Linked DNA regions of Homo sapiens. The protein of the gene in region 3 interacts with the protein of the main gene of each other region in a pairwise test. Each region holds a gene or a part of one and is shown on either strand. Other genes may lie near its edges.

The links. Proteins that work in one complex are often made in the same cells at the same time.
Region 1: the proteins of SATB2 (region 3) and FOXP2 come close enough for resonance energy transfer, tested with the Homo sapiens proteins (one study listed by BioGRID).
Region 2: the proteins of SATB2 (region 3) and POLR2J3 interact in binary tests that used the Homo sapiens proteins (3 or more experiments, as listed by UniProt).

The regions. Positions count from the first base shown.
Region 1 is NC_000007.14:114,409,219-114,418,566, reverse strand, and holds the start of FOXP2 (forkhead box protein P2), read right to left. Parts: upstream 3,753-9,348; 5' UTR 3,207-3,752; intron 1-3,206. UniProt on the Homo sapiens protein: Transcriptional repressor that may play a role in the specification and differentiation of lung epithelium. May also play a role in developing neural, gastrointestinal and cardiovascular tissues.
Region 2 is NC_000007.14:102,565,714-102,570,644, forward strand, and holds the end of POLR2J3 (DNA-directed RNA polymerase II subunit RPB11-b2), read right to left. Parts: intron 4,212-4,931; coding exon 4,122-4,211; intron 2,472-4,121; coding exon 2,297-2,471; intron 1,371-2,296; coding exon 1,338-1,370; 3' UTR 1,253-1,337; downstream 1-1,252. UniProt on the Homo sapiens protein: DNA-dependent RNA polymerase catalyzes the transcription of DNA into RNA using the four ribonucleoside triphosphates as substrates. Component of RNA polymerase II which synthesizes mRNA precursors and many functional non-coding RNAs.
Region 3 is NC_000002.12:199,447,265-199,456,077, reverse strand, and holds part of SATB2 (DNA-binding protein SATB2), read left to right. Parts: 5' UTR 1-40; coding exon 41-209; intron 210-8,813. UniProt on the Homo sapiens protein: Binds to DNA, at nuclear matrix- or scaffold-associated regions. Thought to recognize the sugar-phosphate structure of double-stranded DNA.

The sequences.
Region 1 (9,348 bases), on a different chromosome or scaffold from region 3:
CTCTTTCTTTTTTTCTTCTATGGTTCCTAAAGATTCAAATGTCTGAGAAAAAGAACTTTGTAATACTAACAAGAGTCACTACAACTTCTTTAGAAGAAGGTGAGTGGATGTAAAGTTAATGATCGAAGCAGACACAAACCTCGCTAGCCACAGAATCTTGCCGAAGTAATACAGAGACATAGCTCATCATGACGTTTCCAGTTATTTCTAGCTGATTAGGGTCATTATGTTGGAGGGCTGATTTATGTTGTCATTCCCTCTCACCAGTCCTGCATCAATAGATCTTAATGAATTGGTAAATAAGGGTGAAGATTACACTTGACAACACAGAAACATTTCTCATTCATACCAGACAAGATTTATGTAACCAATTAGGACATAACAGGAGAAATTGGTCAGAAGAAAAATAATCTTTCCAGAAGAAAATTACCCAAGTCCAAACCTCTACAAAAACAGATAACCACTGGAGTTTAATATCAGCTCAATCATGAGTATAACGCCTTGTTGTTCCTTTTAAAGGAATATACCCTCACAAAAATCTGAATGCACAGAAAGTTTTTGAAAAATGTATTGCAATGTCTACTTTCTACAACATTTTAAGATGCAATAAAGTACTTTTCACAAAGTAGAAACATCTTGGGGCATAGCACTTTACTGTATATCAGTTCGTGTATTTCTTTCATAGTATCATTTCCAAGTGTAAGAATGCTATAAGAAAATACCAAAAATGCATGCATTTGTCAGTTTCTAAAGAATGATCATTACCAAAAAAGGTTTCATAGTTCGTATATTTAATAGAAGTAATTATTTGCTTTTCATTTTTACAGTTCCAGTGTCAGTTGTTGCCCCTTTGTCATTAAAATAAAGATGAAAGCACTGATCATCAATAGGAAACCACAGCTTTAAAAACCCAAAGGGCTGGTGTGAACAGAGGTGGAAAATTAAAGCAAAGTGATATTGAAACAGCCCAATTCAACTTGCTTTAAGCATATGCAAATGAGATTCCACTGCTTAACTGCATCATTTATGTCGATAATATCAGCATCATCATTACAGGACTTGCAATTAAATTACATCATAATTAGCATTTCAAAGTGATTGGTTAAACTTTAAAACAAATACCCAATTCTGCTAATGAACAGTGCTAATTGACTTGTACATACTAAATAAAAGAGCTAGGTAAATATATGTTCTAGAAACAATTTTTAAAATTCATTGTTTTAGAGGAAACAAAAGGCAAAAATTAAAAACAGAAAATTGCCAGGGGGATTTGTATGCTGAAATTTAAAACATGTAGCATTTAATTTTATTGCACTAAAGAACCTATTAGATTCTAGACTCTAGAGAACAATGTAAATTATCTGCTTTCAGAATGGAGTTGGGCCAATTCTCTCTATCAACTAATCACAAACCTCATTATGCATAGGAGTATTAAATTATGAAGAAGCAGCATTCCACATTCCAGCACAAATCCCTATGAAATGTTAATAATATGCCCACAATAGCAGAATACCATGCCTTACTTGCCTTCATGAATAATAAAGTAAACAAATTATCTATCCACCTTTTACAAAGATTATTAGTATTTCAATGCATATAATTTTAGTGATCTTTAAAATAAAACGTGAGCATATTCTGTGAAATTTTACATGGGTTTAAAAAAAAAAGTCAAACAAGTTGTTTTCTAATAGAGCACCATATTTCTAAACAGATACCTGTAACCCTTCAATACCGTAATCTCTGTTAGGTATAGGACTCTGCTTTCCGTGAAAACCAACAGGCTAATCATTAAACCTCTCCACATATTCTCAAGTATACTTTGTTTCCAAACTTGTACAGCAGAAGGGCTGACTGTAAAGACAAATAAATATGCCTTTAAAAGGGCATTATGAATCAACTATAGATAATCAGATTTAAAGTCAGAACAGTTCAAAGATAAGGAACAATCGAAAATAAGAATGAAAGTTTTGTATTACACACACTATTGACGGTGAAAGTGATTCAAGATCTATTCTAAGCACACATTAAATAGAGTGCTTTTTTTTTTTTTTTTTTTGGTCGCGGAGGCTAGTAAACAAAAACCTGTCACTTAGGCTACAGTAAAGTGAAAATACATGGATGAAATTTAGGCGTTATTACCTGAAGGTGAAGAATGTCAAACTGGTCAGAGGAAAAAGCTGTTGGTGTTGCAGTAAGAACTTGCTCATGTCACTGGGAAAAGTGCAGCTATCTGTGTCATCCTCCGACTGTGTTTATACTGGCTTGCATCATAAACAAGCTCATCTTCCCTCATAGCTTGTTCATGCATACTTAAATCACCTTGCCCATTAAAAATGTCTCTCTTGACAATTATTCTATCATTTTCAGTTGTCATCAGGCAATTACTGTAGCCCTATGATGGGCCCAATAGGATCCCAGGTTCTGAGACGCTTTTTTGAAGCAGACAGAATGAAAAGTGCAGAAATGGTAATTTATAGCCCAGCCAAGCTACCTTTTTAACTGACACGAGTATTAAACTATCACACCTATTTGAAGAAATATAATGCAGTTTCTAAAAATTACTCATCAATTCACAATGTGTATTCCTGGAAATATATATATTTCTTCACAATCAGTGATTTGAAAAAGACCCACCAACCAATTTTTAATAAAATCATGAACATGCATATAAAACTACAAAGATCATCTGAGCCCTGACTCCTTTCATGTTTGTACAAGCTTAGCAAAAAGAGTTTCCCCTTTAGCACAAAATAAACATCTGCTCTACACAGCACGGCACAGAGAGGCACCCAAACGTGTGGTCAAACTCCCTTTTCAAAAACTTGCGCCCTGACACATACTGGGGCATTTACTAAAAGCAAGATGACATGGTTATTATCAAACCATGAAAGCAGGAACCCTGTCTTTATTCTTCTCAAGATCTTGCAGATTTTTTTTTAATACAAAAGAGGCCTTCTTTATTTGCTGTCTTTACTAGTGATAGCTTAAATCTACATTACGCTACTGACAGATCAAAAACAGTTCCTGTGTCTGGTCTCCCGGCTTTTCCCTCGCAAACAGATACAATGCTCTAGTTCATTTCAATGAGCTACAGTCTCAGAAAAAAAAAAAAGTAAAGCAATTGCCAAATCTACCAGTAAAGCAATCGTAAAATCCCACCCCTCTCTAAACTCTTACAGATATTCTCTTAGCAAAAAGTAACGTACCTTCTCTGGAAATGTTAGAGCAAACTTCCCGGTTTCAACTTCATAGGAGTTTGTTAAAGAGATGAAAAATTAGGAAGATTCAAAAAAGCCAGCACAGAAAACAGTATAAAAAGAAGGGAAAACTCAGAAGCTAGCTCACTGTCAAAGCCACCATCAGACAACTATTTACAGCAGTATTTACACTACTGTGAGTACACCTCTGCCCGATCACGTCCCAGACTGATGGCATTTTGTGCTGGTAATTAAAACAAATCAAGCAGCTCTGTGATTGTTTTGGCGTCCGTGGACAATCGTACACAAAATCAGCATTTAATCACTAGGGTATGTCTTTGGTGTGCAACGTGAGGGGTGACAAAGGTTCAAGACTGAGCCAGCATGCTTACCATAATCTTTCTAAAGTAAGTGCTTCATTTTTGTGTGTGTGTATGTGTGTGTGTGCATGTGTGTGAGTGTGTGAGTGTGTGTGTGAGAGAGAGAAAGACAGAGAGAGAGAGACAAAAGCACCAGTTTGAGTCTCTCAAGTCCTCGGTTAGCTTTCATGTCTGTGATAAATACACTTCTTGCTTCCCTTATTAGGACAAGCTTACCATTATACACTGCACTTTTGGTAAAGCTCCAGTGCTCTGCAATTTACAGCCAAAGGAAGTAGTTTACAAAAATAAGCAAACCCAAGACAAGCATTTCACAGCCACAACATCAGATAAGCCAGAAAGAAATAATCTTCAATGCACATCAAAACCACTTCACAATGACAATTTGTCCAAGCAGATGTTAATCAAGCTTCAGCCTTTGAACACTAGATACCATCAATTACTAACCTTAATTGAAATCACAGTTCTCCAGCTTCTCTGCCAGCATATTCAGAGGATGATGTATTAAGATATTTACAGTAAAGTAAACAATGCATAGTTGCAATGAAATGGAAAATTTTCAGCTAATGGTGTTTGTCAATCCTTTGTCAATTTTTCTGCCTGCCACAGATGTTTTCTTAGCTGTTTCACAAAAACAGGAATCAACTAGCAGAGAAGAAAGACTTTCTCTCCCCCAGGAAAAGAGTACAAAGCCAAGTCTGTACACAGCAGATGCAAAAGAAAGTCCATCTGCTACCAGCTCACAACACCACATGGAGTTTTAAGATTTTATACTGTAGGTAGCCTAGCAGGGTTTGTGTGGACCCCATAAGCATGAAAGGAAGAGAAATGGTAGCCTCAAACTGTTAAGGTAAAAACTACAGCTACAGAGACAGAATGAACAACTTACTGAAGCTGGTAAATCAAAGGTTTATTTGCAATAATTTTCCTCCTATTGCAAGAACTGACTAGTTTTTTAGGAGTTACACCCAAGACAGGAACGACACTGTCTTAGTTTTATGGCCTTTAACTCTGGGCAAGACAACTTGAACTCACAGGTCTCAGCTGAACACCATCGTGAGTGGACAAGCTTTAACAGCACCCCACCTACAACTTAATGTGAGACAAAACAACAGTTACTGAACAAAGCACTTCGAAGAGATCTTTAACCGGCCACCACTCCTGCCACTGACTTATCTTGTTTTAGTTTCTTCAGATGAGTAACATCTGCCACTACTTTTGTTGCACATTTAAATACTAAACAGAAGAGGGAAAGATGTATAAAGAAGTACTTAAAATAACTGCTTCTAATAGCCTTTAATACAGACATTTTGGGTAAGTAATTACAGCAAATTTCACATTTCACCTTCAACCCCTGAGGCTGCACTATTTCTCCACCTCCCCTGAAAGGAACTGAAAGCACTTATTCTTTAGCTCTGTGATACAAAACCGTTTAATATTCTGTTAGCAATTTTTTTCATTTTATAGTTAAATAATTCACTCATTAAAAGTATGTTTATATTGGTTTTTTTTTAAACCAAAATTTAAACACAGGAAACTCATGCAATAGGCAAGTACCTGTAAACATTTATTTTTAACATTTTTTTATCAGATTGTGAACAAAGCAAATGAAATTATATGAGCAATAGTAACTTATATTTTAAGGGAATTAAACAACTGCGAATATTCAAGTATCAGGAATATATTTTTTAAGTCTGCTTTGTTCATTTAAAAATTTTTTCTCCCAACTCTTCACAGTTTACAGGGCTTCCACATTTCAAAGAAACTGTGAATAATGTATACAATGACACAAATGACTTTATGTACTCCAGAGGAAATAAAGGATAGTTTCCATTATCACATCAGTCAAATAACATTTTCACACAAATCTGTTTACATTCACTAAAATGATAACATAATGCTCTTCAGCAATAGTGCCTTATCAACCTAGAAAGCAGTGTAGTAGCAATTAACATAAAATTTAAAAGCTTACACTCATTTTTACCAACAAAAGTTAAAAAAATTGATACCTCTGACATTCAAAAATATTGTTATAAATATGTAAATTCATTTTTTTAAGTAAAATATTTGCATCTCCTTTCCTCCTCCAGGCTTTTGAACTTCTGAGGTCAACAAGGACAAACAATACCACTAGTGTCTCTTTGCAAAAAGCTGGGTTTGCTGTCTGCAAGCAATGGTATCATTTCCATAGCAACCCCCTAACTATTAATTTTCAATTAAAGCAGACACAAAGCGGACAGCCTCAGGCTGGCAGACAGTGTCAAGAGCCCATCTCTGTAGGCAACAGTTTCACACAGCTATCAAGCCATAGGTGCCTCCCGCACAAAGCTGCATCGGGGTACGTCAAGTTTGGCTGGTTACAATGACATTAACCTTCAGTTCAGGCCTAAATAATTTATAGCAAGCTTCACTAAGCACATATAAAGGTGACAAAAACTAGGAAAAGAAATAATTAACTAATGCAAATACCTCCCAATAAACACAAACAATCTCACACACACACAAATGTATTAGGAAGAAGTGTATAACCATTTTGTCAAGTCATTTGTTCCTGAAGAGTCCCACATTCTTTACTATCAGCACACTACTCTTCGATATCACCTGGAAATAACTCCAGGTTATTAAAGAAAATGTTACACTCTGCATATTAGTTTTCACAATCAAATTTTGCTTAACATAAAAGACTATGACTACATTACATTACATAGTAAAACTCCTTTCATTTTATAACCCTATGGCAGGTACGTGATCAGGAAGATGCCACTAAGTAAAAAAATTTTAACTTATATCTTCCAAAATAATCATAGTAATTTTAAAAATAGATTGCTAACCAGACTGTGGTGTTTTCTTTCTATGCCCTTATTATGATTTCTTCCAATAGCAAATCTTTAAAAATATTTTTTAATTTCTTAAACATGAGATGACCTATTAGCAATTCCACTGAACTATAACACTGGTAATTTTGTACTATGACACCTGAGTTTGTTCAAAACAAGCACATTTCAAGGCATAACATAGCAAACATTTTGCTGTATTAAAATCTATTTCAAAAACACATTGAATACCTACTATGTGCCATGCACTGGCTCCATGAAAACTAATCTTGTTTTCCCCCAAAATAGTTATGGAAAAGAATGTATGAAAGGTCAAATTTCCCCCACACTGGATATGATCAGTTGTAAATCCCCTGGACAACTGTCAGCTTTGAGAAGACTTGGTTCTTCTCTCTAGTGCAGAGGGATCTATAAGCAAGACACATCGAATGAGCTAGGACACTGATTAAATACCAATCTTGAAAGCAGCAGAACAAACTAACAGGAAAAAATGCCCAGTGCTATCAAAACTGTAACATTGTAACAATAAAATCTAAACTAAATCGGTGGCATTTACTAAATTGCAGCCACCATTTCAAACAGATAAAAGATGAAATACATATTTTAACAAAACAGAAACATGGAAGAACTGCCTGCTTTGTTTTACAGCAGTACTGTGAAATTCCTTTATTCAAAAATGGTCAAGTCTCCATATTTTGAGCGTTATGCTTACCTTCTATTTAATCTCACATAAAAATGAATATAAACTACAGGGGAATTCTGTGCTTTTTCAAATGTGTGTCTGATTTGAGTTACAGGTGTATTTGTTGTCAGAAACTTGAGTGGGAAAAATTTCATTTCTATTTATTTTAATCAGCATTTTAATACATAACACAGGCTTGGGGCTAATCCCAATTTCCTTTCTATTAGTCTAAGCACATTCACATACCATTACAGTAATCCAAAATCGAAAGCCAGATAAAGAATATGGTATACCTTTGGCGATGTGAGGTTTCAAAACACAGTGTTCTTCTGTGGCCACCACATAAGTTTGGCTCCAGAGTTGCACTGAATCCCAATCTTAATACCTTACTCATGTGTCTTTTTTCCCATTGCCATTTATGTATGCATTTTATCTTCCTGTCCCAAACACTAAGTTCGCTGAGAGTGCAATGTTTTATGTTAGATACTCTATCTACTAGCATAACCTACATATAAAGTCTTGAAATATTTGTTGCCTAAATGAATAAATAAATCTAATACTTAATAGATGAAAGTGACAAGTCTTTTCTTTTTTTTTTTGGCTACTGCCACCTTCATCTACTATTTTCTACTGCCTACACTCCAACAGTATTATTGAGAGGGGTATTTCAGAGAAAGAATAGTTGAGAGATGCAAGTTCGGAAACTACCTGTGTATAGCTATAACATATCCAAGACATCTTTTCCAAAGGCGGTGGTAATTTTTTCTCAAGGAAACACATACTGTTTATTGAAAGTCAACTCTCCTCATCTATACACAGTGATCAATCTCACATGCACTGCCATACTTTTTATGGTAGACAATAGAAGAAATAAGTTTTGTTACATAAAACAAAAAGGAAAATATTTATTGAGCATCTACTACATCCAGGCATATTATGAATGTTTACATGCATCATATCTAATCCTTCCCTCCAGCCTGAAAAGCAGATAATATTACCTTTTTTACAGATGAAGACAGTGGGACTCCCATATTTTAAGTTCCTCAGGGTCAAACAATATCTATGTCTTTTTTGACTCAAATGCCTGTGTTCTTTCTGTTCTGCCACAATGTTTCCCTAATAAACTTTATTTACAGAATATCTTCTACGTACAGAGTACTCTGTTGGGTGTCATGGGAAAGTAGGAGAAGAATTCATAGTAAAATCCGATCTAGTCTCTGCCCTGAAAACTCTCAATCAAGTACTACAGATATGTATCTAACCCTGCCTAGAATATAGAGTATGAGGAATATGTGAAGAGAGTACAACGCCATTTAGTGGTGTGTGTTCTGAACTAGGAAAGATAATAGCTGAGAGAACAAAGAAGTCTATATGGCGAAGATCCCAGTATTGGAACTGCCCCCCAAATAACAGGCAGGATTTTTTTAAGAGGAAATATATTTGACAGTGCTCCAGAAAAAGTGAAGCAAAACTAAAGACATAATGATGAGTTCTATCCCAAGGCAGGCATGTGGTTCAGATAGATTGGAGCTTAGTCAGTCAGTGAGTAATGGAATACACTAGGGTGAGTTAGGTCTGAAACTGGAGGTGTCAGAAGGAGAAGCCCAAATTGTATTCCATGGGCAACAGGGAGTATCAAGATGGTTATCAAATCTGGAGAATTATAAGATTACAGATGTTTTAGGAAAGTTAATTTAGACCAGTTTATATAATAAAATGTATGAAGAGATAGGAATGAGAAAAGCCAAAATCAATTGGAAAACAATCAAACAATAATTCTATGATGCAAGTACTTTCTTTCCCATTTTATAGAAGGAGAAACTGAGGCAGAGAAAAATTGCCAGAATGACACAGCCAATTAATAATTAGGTATGGGAAAATAAGGAAGAGTTAAATAATCAGTTAATATTCATATGAAGAAAATGGAAAAAGATTCAATAAGATGTCCATGAAAATGTATTGAATTTATTCTTCATTAAAAATAACTTGCTTTTTTAAAAGTTTCTTAAAGATGAAATAAAACTATTTTGTTTTATGAAGAAGTGCATGAAGACACTCATACAACTGATATTTTGACATATCTGTAGTTAAGTTCTTGTTATATGCTCTTAGCATTGTATACACTCCATCCTTGGATCTGGGTTAAATAAGAACTAACATCACTGAATGTGCAAAAGTAGGTATTCAATTTATACTAACGATTTCTCATAAGAAGAAAACAAAGATAGACTACAGATTTCAAATGAGAAATTTTA
Region 2 (4,931 bases), on a different chromosome or scaffold from region 3:
GGGGGCCTTCTAAATGCCAACAACAAGGAAATCAAATGTGCAACAAACAGAAATAACGGCATTGACGTGGGCCATGGAAAGGCCTAAACAGATGACTGCAGTTCACTGCCAAGGTCATCAAAGGGGTGACTCTGAAATAATAAATTTCAGACGCCATGGCCCAAATAGCTGCATGAGGTGGGGAAGTCCTCCACATGCCTCTGCTTCCTTCGGTACCTGTTTATGAAATCAGCCGAGGTACTTCCCTGGGGAATTTCCTTTCTTTCTTTCTTTCTTTCGAGACGGAGTCTTGCTCTGTCGCCCAGGCTAGAGTGCAGTGGTGCAATCTCGGCTCACTGCAACCTCTCCCTCCTGGGTTTTAGCAATTCTCCTGCATCAGACTTCTGAGTAGCTGAGATTACAGGTGCATGCCACCATGCCCAGCTAATATTTGTAGTTTTAGTAGAGACAGGGTTTCACCATCTAGGCCAGGCTGGTCTTGAACTCCTGACCTCGTGATCCACCCGTCTTGGCCTCCCAAAGTGCTGGGATTACAGGTGTGAGCCATCAAGCCCGGACCTTTTTTTTATTTTTTGAGACGACGTTTCACTCTTGTTGCCCACGCTGGAGTGCAATGGCACGATCTCAGCTCACTGCCACCTCCTCCTCCCAGGTTCAAGCGATTATCCTGCCTCAGCCTCTCGAGTAGCTGGGATTACAGGCACCCAACACCAAACCCAGCTAACTTATTGTATTTTTAGTAGAGATGGGATGTCACCATGTTGGCCAGGATGGTCTTGAACCCCTGACCTCTAACGATCCACCTGAATTGGTTTCCCAAAATGTTGGGATTACAGGCACAAGCCACTGCGCCCAGCCCCTCCCATACCTCTTTTGGCCAAGGCAGCACAATTCAGAAGAATCTTGCCAGGGAAGACTGGTAAATGGATGTCAACGTGATGCCTATGGCTCCTGGTGGATTTAGATACCTCCTGGTGCTTATTGATATCTTTACCAGTTGCACAGGGGCTTTTCCATGCCAGACTGAAAACGCAGAAGATCAATGATCAACCTTCAACTATTTACTAGCAGAACACTGAGGGGACTGTGCGGTCACCAATACCTCCTATTGCACTTGGATAAACACCTCCCAGGAAATAGAGATGAATAGAAAGGACATAGTCAAACAAGCAGAATGGCTGCATTCCTTCAACCAGAAGGGTCCATTAGTCTGTTTTCACACTGCTATAAAGAACTATGAGAAACTGGGTAATTTATGAAGAAAAGAGGTTTAATTGACTCACAGTTCTGCAGGCTGTACAGGAAGCGTGGCTGGGGAGGCCTCAGGAAACTGACAATCACGGCAGAAGGCGAAGGGGAAGCAGGCACGTCTGGCCATGTTGGAGCAGGAGAGACAGAGAGAGTGAAGTGGGAGGGCTGCACGCTTTTAAACAACCAGATCCCACAAGCGCTCACTCAATATCACGAGAACAGCAAGGGGGAAGTCGGCCCCCATGAGCCAATCACCTCCCACCAGGTCCCTCCCACAACACTGGGAATTACAATTTGACATGACATTTGGGTGTGGATACAGAGCTGAACCATGTCAAGGGTAGTTCAACCGCTGAGATTGATTGATTGATTGATTGACTGAGATGGAGTCCTGCTCTGTTACCTAGGCTGGAGTGCAGTGGCACAATCTCGGCTCACTGCAACCTCCGCCTCCCGGGTTCAAGCGATTCTCCTGCCTCAGCCTCCCGAGTAGCTGGGACTACAGCACATGCCACCATGCCTAGCTAATTTTTGTATTTTTAGTAGAAACAGGGCTTCACCATGTTTGCCAGGCTGGTCTTGAACTCCTGACCTCGTGATCACCCTGCCTCGGCTTTTCTTTGCTGTGGCTCTTTCCCCTCTAAACTGTTCTAGATTCCCAGGCGCCCTGCTAGGAACAGGTGTGGGCCACCCTGGGGTGAGCTGCCTCCCAGAGGCCTGGAAGGACCAGGCCTTGCCAATCACCGACAAGGGACGTAGAAGAGCACCCCCAAAGGACAGTAGGTCCCCGCCCGGATCTGGCCCACAGCACCCGAGGGACCCTGCAGCACTACAGAAGTCCCATGGGGCAGACGGGAGCCACAGGCCCAGACTCCACAGCCCCTCAGTCCACATGTCCTGGAGCCTGTGGTGGAAGTCCCTGTTCTTCCATCACCGCCGCCTCTCCCTGAGGACCTCCGAAGAAACAGGCCAGGGCTGTCCCAGGCCTGGGCACACGGGCCAGTGTCCAGCCCACCCCGTCTGCCCCTCCAGGCCCCGCCCTCACCCGGAAGCGCTCCTCCAGCAGGGACAGCTCACTGATGAGGTCGGTGATGGCGTTGGTAAAGGCTTCCTGGGGGCTGTAGTCCGGCGTGGTCTGCACTCGGATGATGATCTTGTGCTCCAAGGGGTGGGGGACTTTGTAGCCAGCAAATAGCACTTGCGGGTCTTTTAGGAGTTGTCTGAGGTCCAGGGACAGACAGTGTGAGGGTCTAGCCTCATGCCCAAGCTGGGTAGCAGCCAGCTCAGAGCAGAAGAACAGACTTTCTAGCCAAAAATCCCCCCCAACTTTTTTCCCAAAAAGTCTTCAAGGAAAGTAACACTTTTAGGAAGATACCTCATGTGGGGACACCCTATCCCCGCCACACACACACACTCTGCATCCATGAGGTTGAAGGACCCGAGCTGGAAAGAGATTCCAGCAACCTCTTCCCACCGGGCACCGCAGTGCTGGCAAAGAGATCTCCCAGGCAGTGAATGTCCAGCCAGTGTTCAGTGACTCAGACCCAAAAAGCCCACAAAGAGCCTCCACGCAGCAAATAAAGGCAGCAGGAGAGGAGGGCCAGCTCCCGGCAGTGAGTGGAATGCAAATGGAACTCTGCCCTCCGAGCAGCACAGCCGCCAGCGGCTGGCCACGCACACTGGGCCTTGTGCCATGGGGCTGCATCGCGTACTGTGCCCTGGGCATGCAGGGGTCTCCTCTAGAGTGGCTCAGAGTGGCGTGAGCACCACAAGGGGGACCCGTGCATAGGTGGCAACACTGAGCTCAAGAGCAGGGGAGCAGCAGGGCCCCAGGAGAGCTTGGGTGCCCCACTGGCTGGGCTCCGGGCAGGATTCCTCCATCCCCGTGCCTGACCACACCAGGAGACTGGGCAGACCCCACTCACAGACGGGGAAAAGCCTGGCTTCGCTGGTGGCACCAGAGGGAAGAGCCAAGTCTACAGTAAAATGGCAAGTCCCTGGGCCAGAATGGCAGACACATCCCTGACCAACCACCTGGCTAGGACCTCACTGGTATAAACAAACACCCACCAACCAATGCAGGGTGCCCATTAGGGGCACTGGATAGCCACAGAACTCCTACTTCTTTCTCTTGTTAAATAGAAGTTCTAGTCTCTGCCACATACATCTTAGAGGCCCAGGTGGCACTGAGGTCACAAACGGGTGGCATGAGGGGAGCTAATCTTGACTGCTTTTCAATGTCCCTCAGCATGAATAACAAACAGGCCTACTGTGCTGGAATCTGCTGCTCGTTCATTTACAGAATGTGCACTTAATGGTGAATGTAAGGCCGGGCGCAGTAGCTCACGTCTCTAATCCCAGCACTTTGGGAAGCCAGCAGGTGGATCACCTGAGGTCAGGAGTTCGAGACCAGCCTGGCCAACACAGTGAATCCCCGTCTCTACTAAAAACACAAAAATTAGCCGGGCATCGTGGCGTGGGCCTGTAGTCCCAGCTACTAGGAAGGCTGAAGCAGGAGAATCACTTGAACCCGGGAGGCGGAGGTTGCAGTGAGCAAGATCGTGCCATTGCACTCCAGCCTGGGCAACAAAGAGAGAAAATTCCATCTCAAAAACAAACAAACAAACAAACAGTGAATGTAAATGCACGTGTTCATCTACAGAATAAGCCACTACAGAAGTGTGGCTTATGTGAAGACATGGAGGTCGGTGTCATTTTGATAAAAAGGTACCAAGATTATAAAATGCCCAGAGCAAGCCCCCAGAAGGACTTCCTGTAGCTCAGAGAGACTGAGGAAGACTTGGAACTTGTGCTTTGCCCAGAGGGGCCCATTAAACATAGCCCCTGAGAGCCTGTGACGGGAAACTTACGATTTAATGATGTTTCCCAGTGTGTGGTCTTCTTTGTTGATGGTGAATAAACAGGCATTGGGTACCTTGGTGTCCTTGTTAATGGTGATCCTAGGAAGACACAGAGGCCACAGATGAGGAGCAGGGGCTCCCCTCCTCCCACCCTGAGTCTAAACCCTGTCTCCTCCCGGCCAGGTGTGGTGGCTCGTGTCTGTAATCCCAACACTTTGGGAGGCTGAGGTGGATGGATGACCTGAGGTCAGAAGTTCAAGACCAGCCTGCCCAACATGGCAAAACCCTGTCTGTACTAAAAATACAAAGAAAAAAAAAAAATTAGCTGAGTGTGGTGATCCATGCCTGTAGTCCTAGCTACTTGGGAGACTGAGGCAGGAGAATCACCTGAACCTGGGAGGTGGAGTTGCAGTGAGCCGAGATCATGCCACTGCACTCCAGCCTGGGCAACAGAGTGGAACTCTGTATCAAAAATATAAAAATAAAAAGGAAAAATAAGCTCTGCCTCTTCCTGAAGGCCTTTCTCAATCTCTTCATCCCATAAAGGCCTCGCCAACCCGGTCCCCTACTTCCTGCTACCCCAGGTCTATGGAACCTTGGCCTTTTCTGAATTCCTCCTTTTTTTTTTCCGGTAGAGATGGGGTTTTGCCTTGTTGTCCTCGCTGGTCTTGAACTCCTCGCCTCAAATGATCTCTCCTGCTGCCCAGGCTGGAGTGCAGTGGTGTGATCATAGCTCACTGCAGCCTCCAACTCCTCGGCTAAAGTGATCCTCCCGCCTTAGCCTCCTGAGTAGCTGGGACCACAGGCGCACGTCATCAT
Region 3 (8,813 bases):
CGACCTGCCGGTGGGAACTTTGTCTCCGAGTCGGAGCAGCATGGAGCGGCGGAGCGAGAGCCCGTGTCTGCGGGACAGCCCCGACCGGCGGAGCGGCAGCCCGGACGTCAAGGGGCCTCCCCCAGTGAAGGTGGCCCGGCTGGAGCAGAACGGCAGCCCCATGGGAGCCCGCGGGAGGCCCAACGGCGCCGTGGCCAAGGCCGTGGGAGGTAACAGCCCGGAGCAGGGAGGCGCGCAGCCCGCGGCCCAGTGATAATGGCCCGGGTGTCAGGGTTCAGGTTGATTAGGCGCTGTCGCGGTGTAGGATTACAGGAAGTGAATTCCAGGTTGCCAAATAATGCCCCCGTCGCCTCTCATCTGCAACTGGTAGCTTCATCTCCAGTTAAAACAAGAAAGTGGTTTTACCCAGAGGGTGGCATTTTTTGGGCATTTTGCCACTGTGTGCTGAGGTGTTGGCAGGTTTATGTCACAGCCAGCTAACTGTTTCTAGATTTTCCTAGAGAGCTTTTTAGTGATTTAACTCTTTTGCCTTGCCTCGGAGTGTCTGTTGTAGGGATGAAGTTCACGTGCGTTCGCTTTTAGGGAATAAAATAGTCATTAATGCTCAGGCGAGTACAGGAACAAGGAGAGTTGATGTTACTTTGTAGTGAGGACAGTGCTTCAAGACAGATGAATGACAACTGGGAATATTTCCTGCCACGTGAAATGTGGGAAATAAAGAATCACCATGAATCCATCAGGCCCTTAGAAGCTTAAATGCTGCTGTTGTCTATAAAGTTTAGTCATATGCATTCGTAACTTTATTATGAATTATAGGAGAACAGATAAAAATAGCAAAGTAGCCTTATCAACTAGATGTAGTTTCCCCTCCAAAGAATTTATTAATAATTTTATTTAAAGAAAATCTTTTGTAGTTTTTACTACTTAAGCAACTACTTTCTTTTAAAGTGGTCAGGAAAAGCAATCATACAAAATAAAGATATGGGAGAAATTTAAACATTGAAATATTTTGGAGTTTGTATGCCATTTGCTTAGTTGTCTTTTACATGTAAAATCCACAATTCCACATGGCATGCAGGTTTTCTGTGTGTTTGGCATAAATCACTAGTTTAATTTTTTTTGCCTCTAACGTTTTTTCTCTAATAATTTCAACAGTAGCCCATTTAATATTCAATATATTAACTTGTCTTAAATGATATAAAACCTTGGCAAACCTTAATGATAAGCTCCCACCCCCTTGTTGTAAGTGTCTATTGTGTGTATTTCAAAATAGTTACTTACATCTAAAAATGTTCATTCCTCCTTAAAGAGTTGAACACATACGTTTTATAAAATCGTATTTTTTTCTTTTTACTTATTTTGCTATTTCTATTTCTTCATGGTAAATACTTAGGATGGTTTGTCTCAGTCTTTCATATTAATCGTCTCACTTGAGAAGTATTCATCCTTTCAATGTTGTGAGTTAAAAAGTTTGGTGATGGATTCTGGCTTGTTTATCTCCCCTTTTTGGGACTTGAAAATATACTTTATTGAAGCAAAAGAAAACAGTTCTGTGACCCACTTTTTAAAAGAGAGGTTTATTAATTTGTTGTCCTGATACTGGAGCAAATAATGTCAGACTTTTGGCATAATCAGTTAGTATATGCATATAAGAAATAAAAATTCATAGAGTATGATGGTACCAATTATGAGATATGCTAAGTGCTGAAAATGTTTGAAAAAGTTCTGAAACTCCTTGGAGACAGTGTGTTCCAAAGTGGCCTTTGTGGACAGAAAAGGCTTGGACTTAAAATTTTGGTATCTTTCTGAAGATCTAATAAAATTCACTAAATTGAAAGGAGCTGTAAACATTTTAGAATGTAATTGTTAACAACGTGCTTCCCTAAAACAAGTTTTTTCCCCTCCTCTATATCATGTTGAACTATGAAAGAAAGTGCCTTGTTCTGTTGACCAGGGATAACTTTAGTGTTAAATAGTGGTTGGTTTTCAAATTTTCTGAGACTATAGTTCACATTTGAGCCCTTATGTGTTTAATATAAACTAAAATTATTATCTTGGTGAAGAATAATAGATTTGTTTCAACCAGCTGCCTTAGACACTTTCTCTTGATTAACTTAATTTAGTAATAGCAGAGGTCTTATTAGCTGCTTCCCAAATTGAAAATAAAGATGACATTATTTTGTCTCAATACATATCGTTTATAATACACGATAGTAAACTGGTTAAAATTGTTTAGTGGAATTTAAATTTTTTTAAAAAAGACAGCATAATAGTGTGTAAAGAGATTAATTTAGACAACTTTAGAATATAACAACTTAGAAGATAAGATTTTGATAGTACAAAGGTTTCTAATTGAATGTTAACAAAATTATGAGTTTAAGTTTATATAATTTCCAAATGTATGTTAAGATGTTAATAGTTTCTTTGTAACTGTTAACCATGTATACAGTTTGGAGCAAAGCCAGGCCTTTTGAAAAATGCACATTCTAAATTTTAAAAAATGTTTAAAATACATTTCTAGTTAGTTTTTTTATAATTAAAGGATTTTTTTGAACATAGAGTAAATATAAAGTAGATTATATTTCTACCATTCTATGTTCTTTTGTTTAAATTTTCTTTATAAAGCAATATAATAAGCATAGATAACTACACAAGTATTTATAGCTCTGTATCATTTATTACCGTTTTCAGATATATTGCAGTCTTTTCAATGGTGTAATGATGGATACAATAAAATTTGTCTTAAAAGTGGAGCCAAAAATTTGGGAGTACATATTTGTTAATCTTTAGTGTTCCTCTTTCTTAAAAGCTGTTCTTTTAAAAATAAGGGAGATCAAGTTAATTGGTTGTCAAATCAAATAGCAATTTATCTTACTGTTTTTGATAAGCAGTGAGGTAAATATAGTTTAAATATACTTCTGAATGCATTGGTTGCAGTAATAAATTCTGCTGTTACTCTACTTATTTAGGTAGAGGGAATTTACTGTGTTTTTTGATGAGAACTAAGTATTCATAAAAGAAGGGGCATTACTTTAGTGTCTCAATTTAAATAGAAGAGAGGGTAGATACACTGTCACTGTCTTTAAGGTTGTGTTTTAACAGGGGACTTAAAAGTGGATTGTTTACTATGTGGTTAGCTTTAGAAGACTGTTAGAAACTAGATGTTTTGCTTTGTCTTTCCAACACTTTCTGGGATGTTTTTACTCTTATCTGAGCAGTGTGTTTTAAAGCATGTATGTAATAAAATGTAAGTGCTCAGATGTGTATGTCAGTCAGCTTTTACAGACGGTCCTTAGGAAAAAAAAAAGGCTAATATCTCTTTAAAAAACATATGAAGGCTAGGAGAGAGTTTAGAGCTAGCAAGAGCACCATGGTGTTGACAGCTTTATATCCCTGCTGGGTAACATTCACTTACTAGAATTGGCGTCCCCTCTCAGCTAGTAATTCACTCCATAAGGATTTTGAAAAAGGATGATTAATGGTGGGGAAATTTATATTTGTGAAATTGTTGATTAAAACTTACAGATCTATTTGAAGATTTAGGAAAAGAAGGGATTATTAAGGATGATGAAAATAAGAATCAGATGATCCTTTTTACCACTATTAGCATAAGTACCTAAAATGTTCTGCTGTATGGAATGCTTCAGCCATGCAACTTACAGCATAAAATGAAAGTGATGCCAATCAAGTTTCCAGAGGAAGCAAGGCATTCTGCTTTTCTCCTGGACTGCTGAAAGGTGCTGGCCAGTTGTGCTTTAATAGCAATAAATTATTGTGCTTCATTCATTGTTAACACAAGCATTTTCATTTTTTAATGTTTGGCTTAAAGAAGAACTTTCAGACAGCTTTATTTAAACTGAATGAACAGCGCTTGAATATACCAGATGGTGTATTTGCTGATAGGAGACATTAAACATCAGAAATCTTTTTGATATTTTTCATTTTCCTATGAATTTTTATGATTTTTTGGTGTTAAATGTTCTACATTTTAGGGAAAAATATTTAAACATTGAAAATATCTTTTAGAGAGATTTGCTTTTTTTATTAAAAAAACTTGCTTATTTCTGAAAAATAATTTATGTTTTATAAATAACAATTTAATTTTGTTGGCATACTGTCTGTTAAAGTTATCTTATAACTAGTCTACCTGAAGTAGACCTATTCGTGCTACCAGGCAGCCCTTTCAAGAACATAACTGTCTTGTTGCAAGGGGGAAAAAAATCATTATGCAGTACACACTGATGTATTCAAATAGGGAAGCAAATGTGATCAAGATTGTTAGTCAGGGCCTCATTTAAAGCTGAACATTGTCTACAACAACAGTTAGTTTAATTGTCTACATGTGGAACACTTCCTTTTAGATGAAAAGAAATGCAGTTCGGGTCAGGTGTAGTCACCATATCAGCAACAGTAGAGAGACATTTAACTTTTTGAAAGGAATGCAGATATGAAAGTATAGATAGGTATATATTGAGATTATAAAATACTTAGAAATATATTGTTAACATGGGCAAAATGGAGAAAACTCCATTCCCAAGGATGAATATCATAATATTTGTAGGAAGTACACATTACTTCAAAAGAGAAAAGATTGTATTTCTCCCTCCTCACTTTTTTTTTTTTTTTTTAAGGTTTTAAGATCTTTTAAATAGAATGAACTTAGGCTTTGGGGTCATCCAACAATCTAGCCTGTCCTCTGTAGTTTTGCTGAGGTAGAAAAATAACTCTTCTCTAAAGTGTTTTTAGTTCTTGGCCTGTTATTAAAATAAAGATATACTTGGTTAAAAAAATATATGCAGTGGAACATACACATTAAACAGAACATAGGGTATCCGCCCCTCAAAGTCCTGAGCATAATTTGATGTTTCAAGTAATTTTGGAAGCCTTATGTTCCATCAGAAGAAACCCACTGACCATTGTATACTCAAGATCATCTGTAGTGCAGTGTGTGTGTGTGTGTGTGTGTGTGTGTGTGTGTGTGTGTGTTGGAACTACATAGATGTCCCTTAAGGCATCTGTTTTTTAACCCCTGCAGAAAATAAGCAATATCATCCTTTCCCAGAGGGTTGTAACCAGCAAAGTCTGTACATATGAGATATCCTGTTTGAATTCTTCTTTTCTTTCTTGAATTTTGTTTTAACCAATCTATCTCTGTAGAGAAGGGAAAACAGACTAATCATCATTTATTAGATAGCTAAGAATATGAATTTGAGTCATTTTAAGTATACGGAAATCAGTTTTATTCCAGGAAAGACTACAGTAATTATTTGGTATATCTGACAAAGTAGTAAGCAGTGAAGTTTGATGGTTATAATTTAAAACCCCTATTTTTCTTTCTTTTTAAAAAGTATTTATTATAGAATCAGCATATGTGTATATATTTAAAAAGACATGTTAAATTTACAGGGCTAGATGAATTCCAAATAGTATTATTTTCTTGGGTTATACTTATCTTTTAAAGCTTTTTAGGTTTCTGTTGGAATAAAATTTCTCACCATTAAAATGTTTCTTATGACTAAGAACCCACATTAGGTGTGTAAAATATGTACATTGTTTTATTTCAGAAAGCCAAACTTTATCCTATATAGCATGTAAATTAATAAAGAATTCTTTATATTGTTTAATCAGTAGGCTTTTAAAAAACCTATATAACTAATATATGGTAACATAGTAATTTTTACTATCTTCCTTACATGAATACTGAGATACAATGGCATTTTGGAACATATTTAAAGATGGAGCATTTGACAAAAGTTGTATGTGTAACAGTTTGTCAGTGAAAAGTGACAAGTGGGAAATGACAAATGAAATGTTGGCATCATCACTCTTTATTTTGATAAAAATGTCTCAATTTGCAGTGATATAATACTGTTTCATATTATTTCATGAGTTGTGTGAGAATGCATAAGGGGAATTTAGATTTTGTGAACGGAAAATTAGCAGCCCAAAGTCTCTTTTCAGAAGCTTTGGCAGCAAGTTCCCCGTCTCCCCCACTCCCCAAGAATAAGAACAGCAGTGAAATGTTGGATCTAACCCATACATTTTAACTCATTATTTTTTGGAAAAAACAGAGAAATAACCTAAAATGGTTTCGAGTAGGAGACCTTTATGCTTAACTCAAAAAAATGAAGAAAAGAGTTTGCCTTTTAGTTTCTATTCTTTTCTTTGTAGCAATTTTTAAATGAATGATTTGCCTCTACTGACTTTGATTGTATGGTCTTTTTTCACTTCCAATCAACACTGCTCTCCAGCATTAATTTAGGGTGCCAGTAAGGAGAGCTGTGAATTCCTGTTATTTTAAAATGCAATAGAGGTTTTGAAAATGTCTGTGGTGAAAATGGATTTTTATATACAAAAGATTCATCATCCTACTACTTAAATGTAATGTGATAAATATTTCAAAGTCAAAGTAGATGCCCTGAGTGGAACTGAGGTATGACTAAAACAAAAACCAGTTGAGGACTTACAGAGTTTGAAAAAAGCACAGTTGTAGTCATTATAGTATGCTATTTTCCGTTGCTCTTTATTGTTAGCAATTAACCAAACATTATTTTTCTTCTTTTATGTAGAAACAAGCCCTGTAAGCATAACATGCTACAGTGTTTTTGTAAAAATGTTCCATGGTGGAGTTTTCAAAATTATGGAACTCTAGCTATATATATTTGTTTCAATTAACAGAATTATTTTGCTTTTTAGTAGCAAGTGATTTAAGAATTGTGGTAAAATCAGTATAATTAAGTGGCACTGAAAGGCTACATCAGAAATTGCATTCTACAACTTCTGTATCTTTGCTGCTCAATTAAAAAGTTTTACTTATTTCAGATTTTTAAAAAACTAGATAAAAAGACATAATATGGAACAAGTGTGCTTTAGATATATAATTATGACAATAGAGTTTATGGCATGCATTTTTTTTCCCCTTTTTAATTGATGTCCTTTAACTTAAACAAGTGGATGTTATGGTTATTAGTTTGACAAATGCCTAAAATGCAGATAAAAGCATGAATAGAAATTTTAAGAATTTGAAACTTGCAATAAAGTTATCAGCAAACTATGTCAGTTTTATAGTAAGCATATTCTTTATTAATGATTATGACACATAGGACAGGAAAACCTTCTGGGGAAATATATTTCAATTTTAGTTGCTCCTGGTACTGTTACTCACTAATAGTGTGTGGGCAGATTCAGTTCTGCTCTTACCTAGTAGCCGTATCATTGGAATGGAGTTCTATCGTAGTACAGTTGGTTATTAAACTGTAAAATAACAAAAAAGATCAAAAAATTAAGGGGAGGCACTGCAAGCTACTATTTATCAAAAGGGATCCATTTCAAACCAGGGTAACTGGTGCCCACTGATGGTTGCACAGTTACTGAAATGTGCACAGCAGCTCAGTGTCTTTCTTTTGTTTATTTGACTGAAGACTTACACAGATATTTATGTATATAATATATAAAATAAGAGACTCTAGTTAGAGCAAATGTTTTCCAAAGTGCTAAGATCTGACAGAGGTGATTTGCAGGGGTTTGTCGTAGAAACAGCGTGAATTTCATCACGTTAACCACATATATCTTTTTCTTTCTTTAAAAAATACTTTTTACTTGTTTTTGCATTTGGCTGGAAAGCAAGTGTATCAGTTCTTTCATAACTGATTGTGATTGATTTTTTTTTTAACACAAGAAAATATTTTCTTTGCAAAGAGAGCAAATTTGATTGGATGCCATGCCCAAGACTCCTGGGAAAGGACCAAAGGACCAAAGGCATAAAGTAAAAATAACTGTATTTTTAGATTTCCCAATTATGTCCTATATTAAAATTGAGTACTTTTATTGCATTTGTTTCAATTATTATTACATATAAGGAAAGGCAAAATTGATATATTTAATAGCTTACTGACGATGCATTCATATCAAAACACTTGAAATAGCAATAGCATTTTTGAAATATTATTTTTTGGGGGTTAACAGAACAAGAACTTTCTTTTGTCATAATCCAAAGATGCTAACAGAGCAGCATGATAAATGTCTCTTTAAGTGTCGTAGTAAAAGAAAATGACTTGTCTTCTGAGGCAGTGGAGAGTTTATGTTGTTTTGGACCCATTTCCCAAGCAGTGATCGAAAACAGATTACAATAACAATTATACAGTCAGAAGATGCAATATCCATTTCTGCTTTAATTGAGTGAAAGAATAATAAAAACATCATTAAGAAAAATGAGGTGGACCTGTCACACAATGTACAAATTTTTAGTCTTGGAGAAGATGCAGAAAAACTGAAGTGCTTTTCGCATACTTTGTTGTGTTTATTAGCTAAAATCTGTTTTAGGGAGAGACCATTTGGCTCTCATTCTTCCCTGGGAAGTTCAAAGAGGAGCCCATGGAAAGTGGTTGCCCAGGAGACATTACAAATGACCATTGACTTTGTCTTCATACACAGTTTGACCAGGAAAATCCCATTTTCTTAAATTCTACCTGAGGTGGAACTACTCTCTCCCCCTCCTTTTTTTTTGTCTCTGTAAATGGAAGTCAGAAGTAATGAATGTTCCTCTTGTTACAAAGCCCAGCCAAGTAAGGGTTAGATGGGGTTCCTAGGCCTGCTGTTCTTCCTCTTCCCAAAGTCCAAACTAGGCTGAAGGGGAGAGAGTTGAGGCTGAATAATGAGCACCCTCATTTCTTCTCAGCACACACCGGGGTAACCTGAGTTGCTCTGTGGGCACATCACCTGAGGTGTACTCACCTGACTGTCACCTGAAATGCAGAGGCTCTTGCTTCGACCTGCAATCCTCTGAATTATGAAATCGATGTCCTTAACATTGC